Regions from separate parts of the Homo sapiens genome. Here region 1 is linked to region 2. The links come from fine-mapping of genetic effects on gene expression. A gene starts in region 2. The other region holds a variant in brackets. All regions are shown on one strand. Distances are from middle to middle.

Region 1 (5,388 bases), 180 kb before region 2:
AATACTTCCACCATGACCAGTTTCAAGCTACCAACATGATGCCACTGAACACGGAGTTTGGAAGAAATGAACATGGTTAGGACTCTTGAGTCAGTATAGCCACCTTCAGAACACCACTGCCTTTGGCATTCATTTTATTTTAAACTCTGTTTGTTGTTGTTTTTTTATTTTTGAGGTAGGGCCTCGCTCTGTTGCCCAGGCTTGAGTGCAGTGAAGTGATTATGGGCCACTGCACTAATTTTTTAAAAAACACTCATGGATAATTTTTAAAAAAATTTATTTTTGTCTGTGCTTGGTGGCTTATGCCTGCAATCCCAGCATTTTGAGAAGCCAAGGTGGGAGGATCACTTGAGCTCAGGAGTTTAAGACCAGCCTGGGCAACATGGCGAAACCCTGTTTCTACAAAAAAAATATAAATTAGCTGGGTGTGGTGGTATGCACCTGTATTCCCAGCTACCTGGGAGGCTGAGGTGGGAGGATTGTTTGAACCCAGGTGGCAGTGAGCCAGAATTGGTCCTCTGCACTCCAGCCTGGGCCATGGAGTGAGGCCCTATCTAAAAATAATTAATTAAAAATTTAAAAATAAAGTAAAATTTATTTTTTATAGAGGCTGGTCTTGAATTCCTGGACTCAAGTGATCCTCCTGCCTTGGCCTCCCAAAGTGCTAGGATTACAGGCATGAGCCACTGCGCCTGGCCTTTTTTAAACTTTGATCTCTGGGTTTTGCATCCAGGTGTGGAATTTTTAAGAAGTAGTCATGTCATTAATGATATCACAGGGGCAAGAAGAGACAATGGGACAAGAGTGAGCTCTGCCTTTCTTCTTTTGTATTTAAAAACAAAACAACCTTTTGTGACTGTGGTTGGAGAAACAGGCATACTCATTCTACTACTGATGAGAGTGAAAATTAGTACAACTTCTTTGGAGGGCCATTTGGCACCATTCTGAGTGCACATACCCTCTGATCCTGCAATTCTGCTTCAAGGATTTTCTCTTATAAATTCTATGTTTCCTATAGTTATAAATGTGTGTGAAGATGCATGTAACATATACTCATTGCAGCATTGCTAGTAATAGAAAGACTGTGGAAGCAACTTAATGTATGTCAATAAGGAATTGATTTAGGCTGGGCGCATTGGCTCATGCCTATAATCAGCACTTTGGAAGCCGAGGTAGGCAGATCACTTGAGGCCAGGAGTTTGAGACCAGCCTGACCAACATGGTAGAAACTGTGTCTCTACCAAAAAATACAAAAATTAGCTGGGTGTTGTGGCCCACACCTGTATGTAATCCCAGTTACTCGGGAAGCCGACGTAGGAGAATAGCTTGAATCTGGGAGGCGGAGGCTGCAGTGAGCCGAGACTGCACCACTGCACTCCAGCCTCGGTGACAAGAGCAAGACTCTGCCTCAAAAAATGAACAAACAAAACTCCAAAAAACAAAAAGTAGCGAATTGATTGAATGTATATTCTTTTTTTTTTTTGAGACAGAGTCTTGCTCTGTCGCCCAGGCTGGAGTGCAGTGGCGCGATCTCAGCTCACTGCAAGCTCTGCCTCCTGGGTTCATGCCATTCTCCTGCCTCAGCCTCCCAAGTAGCTGGGACTACAGGCACCCACCACCACGCCCGGTTAATTTTTTGTATTTTTAGTAGAGACAGGGTTTCACCGTGTTAGCCAGGACGGTCTCGATCTCCTGACCTTGTGATCCGCCCGCCTCGGCCTCCCAAAGTGCTGGGATTACAGGCGTGAGCCACCGCGCCCGGCCTGAATGTATATTCTTAAAGTGGATTGCTCCGCCATTGTTTAAAATAGTAGGTCATATCTGCTAAGAAGGAATGATTTTCAGGATATATTCTTAAGTTTAAGAATAAAGCAATTTGCAGGAAAGTATATGTGGTATGCTGCCAGATGTAGGAAAACAAGAAGAGGGTATAAGTGTTTATACACACCCACCCACACACATACTCATGCTTGATTATGCCTGGGCGATTGCTGGAAGGACACACACACACACACACACACACACACACAGTGTCTGGGGGAATTCTGTATATCTCTTGGAAAAGCTTAGGGGATTGTGGGTCTTGGGTGGGTGGAAGATATCCTGCTATGTGTCCTTTTATGTTTCTTTGAATGTTTATAGAGGAGATTTGGCAGGTCCCCTTGGTGGGGTTGCATATGCCCCATGGGAAACCAACATTTATTGAGCATTTGCCAAGCAACAGGCAGTTCCCTGTGTTATCTGCTCACAGGTAAGACAGATCACACGGGTAAGGATGTGAGGAGGTGTCCTCACACATCCATAACACTGGAGTTCTCTCCATTGCCTGCTGATACCTGGACTACAGAGCTGCCCAGTAAATGTGTGATAAATGACAAATCTCATTTTCTTTTCCTTTTTCTTTATTTCTTTGGAGGCAGACTTTTGCTTGACTACCCAGGCTGAAGTGCAGTGGCACGATCACGGCTCACTGCAGCCTCGACCTCCCAGGCTCAGCCTCCTGAGTAGCTGGGACTACAGGCATGTGCCACCACGCCTGGCTCACTTTTTTCATTTTGTAGAGACAGGGGCCTCCCTATCTTGCCCAGGCTGGTCTTGAACTCCTGGGCTCAAGTGATCCTCCTGACTTGGCCTCCCAAAGTGCTGGGATTACAGGTGTGAGCCACTGTGCTTGGCCCGATAATC[C/G]CATTTTCAAGAAAATGGATGGTACCTTTGTTGTGCAAAGTCCTGTGGCATGCAGGTAGAGGAAGGGAAATTCCATGACGGCCTGCAAGGTGTTTTGGAAACGGGTAACCCAGCTGCTTCATAGAAATCTGAGTTATCTGAGAGGCATCTTAACTTCGTCTCTCCTGACACTAGTCCCTGGCACCTCTCTTGAGTCCACATGGAAGTATTCAGTCAGTACTAATTTTTCCAACTGTAAGATTCTTTGTTCTGGAAAGCTGTAGCTTGTGTTTCTGGACCACATGAATTGCTGATGTGTTTAGAAACAATAAAGGCAAGGAGAATTTGTCCTGCGATGTCCTCGTTTCCTGAATTATTTTATCTTTACAACTTTCCCGTTGAGTATGCATCATCAAAGGACTAAGAGACACCAGCTTCTGTTCACTTAAAAAGACTGACCTTTAGGGGCCTTTCTTCTCAAAACAGATGTTCCCAGAGGTGCTTTTTATTGTTGTTATTGTTGTTTTCTGCAATCAGCCACATTTCTAACCCATCAGGAAATGTTTTATAGAACCAGAGACTTTCTCTCTTCCCCTTCCCTTGATCATCTGGAAATAAATTCAGTAAGTAGGTTATTCATCTTGAAAGGGCTGTTTTGATGCTGTTGTGATGTGATCAGCACACAAATGGACAAGAAATCCAAATGGTCAAGAAGGATGGAATGAAAATTTAAGCGTATGGAATCAAAATCACAAAAACTGACCTGGGTAGTATTTAAGAGCGTTCCATTATCTGCACAATTCAGATGAAACACTTGCAAGTGAGAGTTATTTGACCTTAGCACTTTGCTGGTCTCTTGAGACAGTATTTTGTAGGCTCAGAGAGAGCTGTTAAGAGCTTTAAGTATCATCGCCCTTCTGTGCAACGTGGGATGTAATGGTTTTAGTTTACTGTAAGATGAATGTGAATCAACAGTGTTATCTGACTCCTCCAACTAGTAATTCCATCTTCACTGCCTGAATAGAGAGAGGGAATAGGTTTAATCGCCATTGCTCTGTGAGGCCTTCCTGGACCCAGGTGCTTTGCTGTGCTCATATTGCACTGTGTAGTATTTAATTAAAGCAGTTATCTTATTGGCTTTAAATAGCTGTAATTGTTTGTGGCTGTCTCCACATCAGCCTGTGAGTGCCTGGAAGGATGGTATGGATCACCTTGCTTCATCTGTGTATAGCCAGCATGCAGCATACACCACAGCACTTCGGATTTCATTAGTCAGGATTCTGTCGACCTTGAAACAGAATCTCGCCTCGAACTGGCTTCCGCAGAAAGGGGATTTGTTGGTTTATGTAATTGAAGAATCTAGGAGTGAAACATAAGGCCTGGAGGATCCAAGGCTTAAAGTGTTGCCAAGGCTTACACAGTTTTTCACCATCTTTAACGCTGCCTCCCTTTTCTTGTGGATTGTGGTCCAAAATGGTTGTCAGCGGTTCTAGCAGGAGGTAAAAAAAGGCCACTGTTCCAGTAGTTCAACAAGTCTTAGAACTGAGTCCAACTGTCTTTCTGATTGGTCTTTTCTGGGTAACATGCACAGCCCTGAACCAATCGCTGTGGCAGGCAAATGCGACGCTCTGATTGGCCATCTTGGATCAAATGCCCTCCCCCTGAGGGAGATTGGGTGCAGCTTGCACCTGCTCAGGTACAGAGACTGAGAATGAGGGAAAGATTGCAGGTTTCCAGGGAAATGCGGGTACCGTTTGTGAATGGTGGGTAGGCAAAAGCCAAGGATGTCCAATATAGTAGGTTTTTAATCAGTGTTTACTCAGTGAATGAATTAACAGATGAATGAGCAAACAGGAGCGTGCTGCTGATTCTGCGAGCTGGTTATGCAATACCCCGAGTGGGGTTTTAACAGATGGAGACTTTGCAGAGGGGAGGGATAGAAGAGGGCTCTGAAATCAAGTCATTTAAGGATACCATTAAATTAGCTGAAATATTTAACAAGAAATAGGAGACAGGGGAGACATATGATAGCTGTTTCCAAACGTAAAGGGCATTCATAGGGAAGGGACATTTTCTGGGTCCCTATTTTATGCCATAGATGCTGGGCTAGACACTTTAATTGACATCACCCCACGTTTATTTTTATTTTAATTTATGTTATTTCATTTTTTTGAGACAAGGCCTTGCTCTGTGGCCCAGGTTGGTGTGCAGTGGTATGATTCTAGCTTACTGCAGCCTCAGTCTCCCAGGCTCAAGCAATCATCCTGCCTCCCTCCTGAGTATCTGGGACTACAGGCACACATCACACCTAGCTAATTTTTTTTCTTTTTCTGTCCTTCTTTCTTTTGTTCTTTCTTTCTTTCTTTTTTTTTAAACAGGGTTTCACTCTGTTGCCCAGGCTGGAGTGCAGTGGCGCAATCATGGCTCACTGCAGCCTTGACTTCCCAGGCTCAGGTGATCCACCTCAGCCTCCCCGAGTAGCTGGGACCACAGGCAAGCAGCACCATGCGTGGCTAATTTTTTGTATGTTTAGAGAAGGGGTCTCCCATGTTGCTCAGGCTGGTCTTGAACTCTTGGGCTCAAGCCATCCTCCCACCTCGGCCTCCCAAAGTGCTGAGATTACAGGCACAAGCCACTGCATCTGGCCGCAATTAAAAAATTTTTATTTAATCTTGATAATTGTGTTTGTTAAAGAAACTAGCTCAGAGAGTTTAGGAACTTGCC
Region 2 (5,388 bases):
GACAGTCTCTTCAATAAATGGTGTTGCAAAAACTAGATATCCACACGTAGAAGACTGAAACTAGACCCTTATCTCTCACTATATACAAGAACTAAATTAAAATAGATTAAATAATTGAATCTAAGGACTCAAATTATGAAACTACTACAATAAAACATTGGGGAAACTCTCCAGGACATTGGAATGGGCAAACATTTCTTGAGTAATACCCCACAAGCACAGGCAGCCAAAACAAAAATGGACAAATGCAACCATATCAAAGTAAAAAGCTTCCTTCCAGCAAAGAACAATCAACAACAGAAGAAGAAAACCCAAAGAATGGGAGAAAATATTTGCAAACTAAGCATCTGACAAAGGATTTGTAAGCAGAACACACAAGGAGCTCAAACAATTATACAGGAAAAAATCTAATAAACTAATTAAAATATGGGCAAAAGTTCTAAATAGACATTTCTTGAAAGACGACATACAAATGGCAAACACGCATATGAAAATGTGCTCGACATTATTGATCATCAGAGAAACACCATTCAAAACTACAATGAGATATCATCTCACATCTGTTAAAATGGATTTTACCCAAAAGACAGGCAATAACAGGCTGGAGAGGATGTGGAGAAAAGGGGACCCTTGGACACTGTTTGTGGGAATGTAAATTAGTACAACTACTATGGAGAACAGTTTGGGCCTTCCTCAGAAAAACTGAAAATAGAACTATCGTATGATCCAGCAAACCCACTGTTAAGTATATACCTCCAAAATAGGAAATCAATATATTGAAGAGATATCTGCACTCCCATGTTTATTGCAGTTCCACTCACAATAGCCAAGATTTAGAAGCAATCCAAGTGTCCATCAACAAATGAATGAATAAAAAAAATGGTACGTATACATAATGGAGTACTATTCAGCCATAAAAAGAATGAGATCCTGTCATTTGCAACAACATAGATGGAACTGGAGGTCATTATGTTAAGTGAAATAAGCCAAGCACAGAAAGACAAACTTTACATGTTCTCTCTTATTTGTGAAAGCTAAAAATTAAAACAACTGAACTTACGGAGATAGAGAATAGAATGATGGTTACCAGACGCTAGGAAGGGTAGTGGGGTGGGTGTGCAGGGGTAGGGGGAATGGTTAATGAGTACAAAAAGATTTAGAAGGAATAAGATCTAATGTCTGATAGCACAATATATTATTGACTATAGTCAATAATAATTTAATTGTACATTTAAAAATAACTAAAAGAGTATAATATTTTAACACAAAAAATAAATATCTGAGATGATAGATACCTCATTTACCCTGGTGTGATTATTATACATTGTATGCCTGTATTAAAATATCCCATATATCCCATAAATAAATATATACATCTATGTACCCATAAAAATTAAAGACAAAACAAAACTAAAAACTACAGCTTTGCACAAAGGCTATTGCAACCTTAAACAAAAAATACTTCTGCCAGGACATCTGTCCACCAACTGCCTGTCTAACCTTGGACTGGTGCCACCTTTGTTACTGATCCTTGTAAGCAAAGAATTGATTCAAAACAATTGTGTAATCCTTCTTATTTTTCTTTTTAAAACTTTTTTCTTCCCTTACCTGTCTGAATACACACATAGTTTGTGATGGCACGCATATTCCCATTGCAATGCTCATTCTTGAATAAATATCACTGTCTTTTAGAGAGCTTTTCTTTATCTGTTATTTAGGTTGGTGTGACTCACATAACTGTTCCCAAACAGCTAAGTTACTTTTCTCCGACTTCTGGAATACCCAATAGCAGGTTGGGGCCTATAGAATGTTGGTACACAGAAGGGTTATGTATGTAATTATAATTTTATATTTCAAGTCTATAGTTTTTACAATGGAAATTATAGAACGTGAAAGTTAATTTGGAACATCGTGTCTGGTGGTGATATGCAGAAAGCACAGTCTGAGCTTTGTCCCAAGTGAAGTGCATATCAGGTTCTTACAGTGGAAAGGGAAGGCATAAGACTTTTATGAATATTAAAAGAAAACAAAAGTAAAGTAAATGCATTGTGAAATACTGTCAGCTGAAAGGAATGTTGCTGTATTGAGTGTCAGTTCCAGGAAGTTACTCAAAACTTAAAGGTGTAGCAATCCTGTTTATACAGTTTCTGCTCCTATAGGCACTTTACTTCATCTTGAAACCCATAGGGAGTAATTGGAAAGGACATGGGTTTCAGGCAAGTTTTTAATTCCTTTCACAAATCCCCTTTTTATTTATATTTAAAATAAAGATTGTTGTAAGATTGGATTTAGATAATACATGCATGGTGCTTAACACAGAGGAGGCATTAAGCACAGTAATTCCTGTTGTACAGAGCCCCACATGTAGGCAGTTCAGAGGTGCTTCCCAGGGCCCTGGCGCTAGTGCCTGTCCCTCCTGCTGAAGTTGCCTTTCCTGGTGTCCAGTGATTGAATTCTAAATTCAGCACATATACCAGAGGAATACGAGCCAAAGAAGTTGTTCCAGCTAGAGTTGCTGGGAATCCATGAATCAAAGACTTGCTCAGCTAGTTCTGTATGTGAAAGGAAATGGGTGTGACTCTGAGGAAGCCTTTTTAATTCTGATTCAGGAGATACATAATTAGATGCCACTTGATTTTGTTCCACAGACTTTTTGCTGAGGACTTGAGAGCTAAGGTTCTGTGATCCAGAACTAGTTCCAGACTTACTCTTCTGGAAATGAACAGGGCCCTCCTGTGCTTATTTTTCCAGGATACTGCATTGGAAATTGAGTCAGGGACCCATTGGTGAGAAGAGAACAGTGAACAGAATCACATTGATCTGGTCCTGGAGTTTGTCTGACAATTTCTACTTGACCGCAGGAGGTCTGAAGATTGGAAGGGGCCCTACTCAATTGTGCTATTTTTCTCTCTTTTTTTTTTTTTTGAGACGGAGTTGCCCAGGCTGGAGTGCAGCGGCATGGTCTCAGCTCACTGCAACCTCTGCCTCCCGGGTTCAAGCAGTTCTCTGCCTCAGCCTCCCAAGTAGCTGGGATTACAGGTGCCTGCCACCATTCCTGGCTAATTTTTGTATTTTCAGTAGAGACAGGGTTTCACCATCTTGGCCTGGCTGATCTTGAACTCCTGACCTCGTGATCCACCGGCCTCAGCCTCCCAAAGTGCTGGGATTACAGACGTGAGCCACCGTGCCCGGCCAATCCTGCTATTTCTCTACAGGACAAAGGGATATATAATCTGGTAAGTCCTAATGGGATCAGGGGATGAAAAAGAAAAGATTACTATCATCAGCGACAAAAATGTTCTGGATGGGTTTGTGAAATGAGTCGAAGAGTTTTTTTTCCTACAGAATTTGACTGAAAAGGAAGTTAAGTTCGTCTTAATAATGGAGAATTCCTGATAGCATGTAAGGCTAAGGAATATATCTTCGATACATTATTGCACAGGTCCAGTCTTAAAGAAGCATCTTATATTCTCATTATTCTCTGCTTGTCCAGTGACCTCTTACATGGCCCATATCAGAGAATTGAAATGGTCACATCAGGAATTTTACATGAACTGTTGAAAATTCTGTCTCTCTTCATTATTGAACATATTTAGAAAGTTCAAAAACTGAATTCCATGTAGTTAGGAAGTCCTATTCCTATTTGTTATAATTGTAACAATACAATTATACTCTTAATTGTAACAATACAATTATACTGTTTTAGTTATTTCTAACTGTACAATTATTGACTATAGTCACCCTGTTGTGCTATCGAATACTAGATCTTATTCAGAAATACTAGATCTTATTCAGTCTAACTATTTTTTTTGTGCTCATTTACCATCCCCACCTCCCTCCCACCCCCTAATATCTTTCCCAGCCTCTGGTAACCATCATTTTACTCTATCTCCATAACTTCAATTGTCTTAATTTTTAGCTTTCATAAATAAGTGAGAACATTGTAAAGTTTGTCTTTCTGTGCCTGGCTTATTTCACTTAATGACCTCTAGTCCCCTCTATGTTGTTGCGAATGACAGGATCTCATTTTTTTTTGACACGGAGTTTTGCTCTTGTTGCCCAGGCTGGAGTGCAACAGTGCAATCTCGACTCACTGCAACCTCCGCCTCCTGGGTTCAAGTGATTCTCCTGCCTCAGCCTCCCAAGTAGCTGGGATTACAGTCATGCGCTACCATGCCTGGCTAATTTTGTATTTTTAGTAGAGCGGGGTTTCTCCATGTTGGTCAGGCTGGTCTTGAACTCCTGACCTCAGTTGATCCACCCGCCTCAGCCTCCCAAAGTGCTGGGATTACAGGCATGAGCCACCGCACCCAGCCAATCTCATTCTTTTTTATGGCTGAGTAGTACTCTGTTATGTATATGTACCACATTTTGTTTACCTGTTCATTTGTTGATGGACACTTGCATTGCTTCCCAATCTTGGCTATTGTGAACAGTGCTGCAACAAACATGGGAGTGAAGATATCTCTTCAATATACTGGTTTTCTTTCTTTTGGGTGTACACCCAGCAGAGAGGTTGCTGGGTTGTATGGCAGCTCTATTTTTAGCTTTTTGAGGAAGGTCCAAACTGTTCTCCATAGTGGCTGTACTAATTTACATTCCCACAAACAGGGTACAAGTTTCCCTTTTCTCTACCTTCTCTCCAGCATTTTTTATTACTTGTCTTTTAGATATAAGCCATTTTAACAGGGGTGAGATGATATCTCATTGTAGTTTTGATTTACATTTTTCTGATAACTAATAATGTTGAGGACCTTTTCATATGCCTTTTTTTCATTTGTATGTATTCCTCTGAGAAATGTTTATTCAACTCTTTTGCCCATATTTTAATCTGATTATTAGATTTTTTTCCTATAGAGTTGTGTGGGCTCCTTATATTTTCTGGTTATTATTCCCTTATCAGATGGGAAGTTTGCAAATATTTTCTCCCATTCTGTGGGTTCTCTTTTTCTGTTGTTGATCTTTTCCTTTGCTGGAGGGAAGCTTTGTAACTTGATGAGATCCAATTTGTCTATTTTTGCTTTGGTTGCCTGTGCTGGTGGTGTATTACTTAAGAAATTTTTGCCTAGACCAATGTCCTGGAGAGTTTCCCCAGTGTTTTCCTGTAGTAGTTTCACAGTTTGAGGCTTTACATTGAAGTCTATAATCTATTTTGATTTTATTTTTGTACATGATGAGAGAGAGTGGTCTAGTTTCAGTCTCCTGCATATGAATATCCAGGTTTCCCAGCACCATTTATTGAAGAGACTGTCCTTTCTCTAATGTATGTTCTTGGCACCTTGGTAAAAAATGAGCTCACTGTAGGTATATGGATTTGTTTCTGGGTTCTCGATTTTTTTCCTTTGGTCTGTGTGTCTGTTTTCATGCCAGTACCATGCTGTTTTGGTT

Evidence for each region. PIP is the estimated chance that this variant, and not a neighbour inherited with it, causes the effect. A credible set is the group of variants that fine-mapping cannot tell apart.
Region 1: its variant is the best candidate, but not a certain one, in a credible set for the expression of GSDMC in spleen (GTEx, PIP 0.87).

The regions. Positions count from the first base shown.
Region 1 is chr8:129,961,891-129,967,278 of GRCh38, reverse strand. The region is part of intron 2 of CYRIB (CYFIP related Rac1 interactor B); the gene reads left to right. Among named protein-coding and RNA genes, the nearest start is that of MIR5194, 44 kb to the left of the region's middle. RefSeq lists a silencer at 4,430-4,630. The variant C/G (reference allele first, on the strand shown) is at 2,686.
Region 2 is chr8:129,783,859-129,789,246 of GRCh38, reverse strand. GSDMC (gasdermin C) reads left to right here and starts at 2,623. Exons shown (of 14, transcript NM_031415.3): 1 at 2,623-3,236.